Linked DNA regions of Homo sapiens: region 2 is linked to region 1. A link means that fine-mapping ties the variant in region 1 to the expression of a gene that starts in the linked region. Tissue or cell type: whole blood. Region 1 holds a variant in brackets; the other region holds the start of a gene. All regions are shown on one strand. Distances are between the middles of the regions.

Region 1 (2,686 bases):
TACTGAAAATGTAAATTGAGCCATTTGCTCTTTTGGAATTTATTGCGGCTTAGGCCTCTGGGCCTAGTGTAATACCTGATGTTCCTAAAGATTTGAATGAAGAATTAATGAATACGTAGTTTCTTGGGGTTGATGGGGAGTACGTAAGCAGGGACTTACTATTCTACCTGCTGATTTAATGTCCATGAAAATAATCATACACTAAAATGTTAATAATACATACACACAAACGGACTAGTGTACATGGTGGACATTTTAAACTCTTTCACCAAAATATTTATTGATTAACATCTGTCAGGGCCAGATGAGGTGGTTCATGCCTGTAATACCAGCACTTTGGGCAGATCACTTGAATCCAAGAGTTCGAGACCAGCCTGGCCAACATGGTGAAACCCAGTCTCTACTAAAAATATGAAAAATTAGCCAGGCATGGTGGCGTGTGCTGTCCTTCCAGCTACTCAGGAGGCTGAGGTGGGAGAATCCTTTTAGCCTGGGAGGTCCAGGCTGCAGTGAGCTGTGATTGCACCACTGCACTCCACCTGGGCAACAGAACAAGAACCTGTCGCAAAAAACAAAAAAAAACCCCGTCAATTCTACTTACTAAAATATACAATAATATAGTTTAAAAATCATATTAATACATTGTCTATATATTTTATTAGGGTACTCTTTATTTTATTCTCAAGTACTGCCAAAAGAAGAGTAGACTAAGGCTGGGTGCGATGTCTCACGCCTGGAATCCTAGCACTTTGGGAGGCCGAGGCGTGCGGATCACTTGAGGTCAGGAGTTCGAGACCAAAGCCAGGCTCACGCCTGTAATCCCAGCACTTTGGGAAGCTGAGGCAGGAGGATCACCTGAGGTCAGGAGTTCGAGACCAGCCTGGCCAACATGGTGAAACCCTGTCTCTACTAAAAATAAAAAAATTAGCTGGGCGTGGTGGCGTGCCTGTAATCCCAGCTGCTTGGGAGGCTGAGGCAAGAAAATCGCCTGAACCCGGGAGGCGGAGGTTGCAGTGAGCCAAGATCACGCCATTGCACTCCAGCCTGGGGGACAAGAGCGAAACTCTGCCTCAAAAAAAAAAAAAAAAAGAAAAAGAAAAAAAAGAAAAAGAAAGTAAAAAAAGAGTAGATTAATAAGACATTTTTCACGAGTCAGTGCATTTTTGTTCCTTGTTTCCCAAGCTGCACGGCAGTGTTTTTCCTTTGTAGCCAC[A/G]GAGAATTTTCTTCATTCTCTACAGTCACAAGCCAGTATTGAGTTTCTTAAATATCTGTTGTGTTTTGGAGGCTCGCTATAACCTGACCTCAGGTTATACTGTTTGGATCTTGTATTATGGGGAAATGTTGGTAATAGCAGAGAACTAGGGAAGTCAGCTGGATTTAGAAAAAGAAAACTTCCATTTGAGGGTTCTTTGAGACAGTAGTGGGATAGGTGAGTGGAAGTGTGTAGCGCAGTGATTCTCAAACATTAGTTTGCATCTGAACCATCTGGAAGGCTTGTCAAAATACAGATTGCAGGCCCCCCTCCTGGAGTTTCTGATTGCGTAGATCTGGGGCGGGGGCTCAAGAATCTGTGTCTCTAACGAGTGCCCACCCAGGTCATGCTGCTGCTGCTGCTCTGGGAATCCCGCTTTGAGAACCAGTGCTTTGGAGGCCTTTGGAAGTGCAGGTCTGGAACTTGCATGACGGAAGGGGCCGGGCTTGAGGCTGGTCTGGGCATCCTGTGTGTGCAGGGGCTTGGTGGAGCTGTGGAAGTGGGTACCAGCCAAAGCAGGGCGCATAGACAAGTGCTGAGGACGAATTGAGGAATACTGTGGGGAGGGGTGGCTGCGAGGAAGAACAGAGCTGAGAGATAAGGAAGAAATGGACAGAGGGTTATGAGGAGACCTGGGTGAGTGAAGACCCACAAACTCCTATGTAAAGGTTCAGGAGAGTGAGGACATGTATGGGTATTGGTGTCAGGGGAGGGACTGAGTGGTCACCCGGATGGTAGGTGTTGTAGCTGTGCAGGCCTGGCCTTTCCACCATTCTTTCAGGAAGGGCAGCATCCCCGGGCAGTGGGATGTGCTGCTTGTGGCCACAGAGTCACATGTGGACTTTCCTGTAAGAAAGGGAATTCTTTTAGTCTTTCTGGCCGTAGTCCCAGGGATCATGACTAAGTTCTCTCCCTCTTTCTGCCTGTCACTGATAATTAACGTAAAACCAGGATGAGTTTTGCAAACCAGAAGCAAGATTTCTTTGTGCGAGGAGTGACTGTCATCTCTAAAACTGGAGTTTGTGTCCTTGTGTGTATTTGCCTGCTCAGCTTAATAGCTTTAGGCATGCAGTCATCTTAGCATAACTTGATATAAGCCGATTCTGAGAGTGGGTGCTGACATATGGAAGTGTTTTTGACAGTCCACGTTGTGAAGGTCAGGAGGTTTGCTACAGGAAAGAAATCCAAGAAGGGCAGTGGCCCACTGGTGTTGGGTCCTCTGAGAGTGAGCTGTGTTCTACTCTTCCCACTCACGTCACAAAGTCGAGAGAAACATCCCCTAATTTGATTGTATATTTCATTTTAAAGGAATCCTCATTGCGTCTGAGGATGTAAAATATTTCTCTTGGGTTTCGGAAAGAGGCCAAAGCCTGCCCCAAGGTGTTCTCTGTTATCATTTGGGGCATCTGTTGTTAGTAGAGAGCAAAGTGATTT
Region 2 (2,686 bases), 95 kb before region 1:
GCTGGAATGCTGTGGCTATTCACAGGCACAATCATAGCTCACTGCAGCCTTGAGCTCCCAGGCTCAAGTGATCCTCCCGCCTCAGCCTCCTGAGTAGCTGAGATCACAGGCATGCACTACCACACTCGGCTCACATTTGACATCCTCTAAAGCATATATAAAATGTGAAGAAAACTTTCACAATTTGCATCCCTTTGTAATATGTAACAGAAATAAAATTCTCTTTTAAAATCTATCAACAATAGGCAAGGCACGGTGGCTCACGCCTGTCGTCTCAGCACTTTGTGAGGCCCAGGCGGGCAGATCGTTTGAGCCTAGAAGTTCAAGACCACCCTGGGCAACATAGCGAAACCCCCTTTCTACAAAAAATACAAAAACTAGCTGGGTGTGGTGGTGCACACCTGTAGTCCCAGCTACTTGGAAGGCTGAAATGGGAAGACTGCTTGAGCCCGGGAGGGAGAAGTTGCAGTAAGCCAGGACCACACCACTGCACTCCAGCCTGGGCAACAGAGTGAGACTCTGTCTCAAACAAACAAATAAATGAGGCGGGTGGATCACGAGGTCAGTAGATCGAGACCATCCTGGCTAACACGGTGAAACCCGTCTCTACTAAAAAAAAAAAAAAATACAAAAAATTAGCCAGGCATGGTGGCGGGCGCCTGTAGTCCCAGTTACTCGGGAGGCTGAGGCAGGAGAATGGCGTGAAACCGGGAGGCAGAGCTTGCAGTGAGCCGAGATCGCACCACTGCCCTCCAGCCTGGGCGACAGAGCGAGACTCCGTCTCAATCAATCAATCAATCAATAAAATCTATTAACAATATTTATTGTGCACTTAACAGGAACATGCCCTGTCCAAAAAAAACTTTACAGGGCTTAACTCATTTTATCCTTACCACAATCCTATGAAGTAGGAACTTTTATAAAACGCATTTTATAAACAAGGCACAGAGAGGTTAATTAACTTGCCCTCTGGTCACACAGCTAGGAAGTGGGCAGAGTACAGATTTACACAAGGCATCCGTCTCCTGGCCCCACATACCCAACTGCTGTAAACCCATACCGGCGGCCAAGCAGCCTCAATTTGTGCATGCACCCACTTCCCAGCAAGACAGCAGCTCCCAAGTTCCTCCTGTTTAGAATTTTAGAAGCGGCGGGCCACCAGGCTGCAGTCTCCCTTGGGTCAGGGGTCCTGGTTGCACTCCGTGCTTTGCACAAAGCAGGCTCTCCATTTTTGTTAAATGCACGAATAGTGCTAAGCTGGGAAGTTCTTCCTGAGGTCTAACCTCTAGCTGCTCCCCCACAGAAGAGTGCCTGCGGCCAGTGGCCACCAGGGGTCGCCGCAGCACCCAGCGCTGGAGGGCGGAGCGGGCGGCAGACCCGGAGCAGCATGTGGACTCTCGGGCGCCGCGCAGTAGCCGGCCTCCTGGCGTCACCCAGCCCAGCCCAGGCCCAGACCCTCACCCGGGTCCCGCGGCCGGCAGAGTTGGCCCCACTCTGCGGCCGCCGTGGCCTGCGCACCGACATCGATGCGACCTGCACGCCCCGCCGCGCAGTAAGTATCCGCGCCGGGAACAGCCGCGGGCCGCACGCCGCGGGCCGCACGCCGCACGCCTGCGCAGGGAGGCGCCGCGCACGCCGGGGTCGCTCCGGGTACGCGCGCTGGACTAGCTCACCCCGCTCCTTCTCAGGGCGGCCCGGCGGAAGCGGCCTTGCAACTCCCTTCTCTGGTTCTCCCGGTTGCATTTACACTGGCTTCTGCTTTCCGAAGGAAAAGGGGACATTTTGTCCTGCGGTGCGACTGCGGGTCAAGGCACGGGCGAAGGCAGGGCAGGCTGGTGGAGGGGACCGGTTCCGAGGGGTGTGCGGCTGTCTCCATGCTTGTCACTTCTCTGCGATAACTTGTTTCAGTAATATTAATAGATGGTATCTGCTAGTATATACATACACATAATGTGTGTGTCTGTGTGTATCTGTATATAGCGTGTGTGTTGTGTGTGTGTGTTTGCGCGCACGGGCGCGCGCACACCTAATATTTTCAAGGCTGGATTTTTTTGAACGAAATGCTTTCCTGGAACGAGGTGAAACTTTCAGAGCTGCAGAATAGCTAGAGCAGCAGGGGCCCTGGCTTTTGGAAACTGACCCGACCTTTATTCCAGATTCTGCCCCACTCCGCAGAGCTGTGTGACCTTGGGGGATTCCCCTAACCTCTCTGAGACGTGGCTTTGTTTTCTGTAGGGAGAAGATAAAGGTGACGCCCATTTTGCGGACCTGGTGTGAGGATTAAATGGGAATAACATAGATAAAGTCTTCAGAACTTCAAATTAGTTCCCCTTTCTTCCTTTGGGGGGTACAAAGAAATATCTGACCCAGTTACGCCACGGCTTGAAAGGAGGAAACCCAAAGAATGGCTGTGGGGATGAGGAAGATTCCTCAAGGGGAGGACATGGTATTTAATGAGGGTCTTGAAGATGCCAAGGAAGTGGTAGAGGGTGTTTCACGAGGAGGGAACCGTCTGGGCAAAGGCCAGGAAGGCGGAAGGGGATCCCTTCAGAGTGGCTGGTACGCCGCATGTATTAGGGGAGATGAAAGAGGCAGGCCACGTCCAAGCCATATTTGTGTTGCTCTCCGGAGTTTGTACTTTAGGCTTGAACTTCCCACACGTGTTATTTGGCCCACATTGTGTTTG

Evidence for each region. PIP is the estimated chance that this variant, and not a neighbour inherited with it, causes the effect.
Region 2: it holds the start of FXN, and the variant in region 1 is fine-mapped to the expression of FXN in whole blood (TOPMed, PIP 0.92).

The regions. Positions count from the first base shown.
Region 1 is chr9:69,128,944-69,131,629 of GRCh38, forward strand. It overlaps a transcript of TJP2 not described here. Among named protein-coding and RNA genes, the nearest start is that of TJP2, 44 kb to the right of the region's middle. RefSeq lists an enhancer at 1,717-2,246. The variant A/G (reference allele first, on the strand shown) is at 1,214.
Region 2 is chr9:69,034,396-69,037,081 of GRCh38, forward strand. It overlaps FXN (frataxin), which reads left to right and starts at 1,357. Exons shown (of 5, transcript NM_000144.5): 1 at 1,357-1,552. The coding sequence starts at 1,388. RefSeq lists silencers at 1,246-1,715, 2,298-2,592 and an enhancer at 1,876-1,925.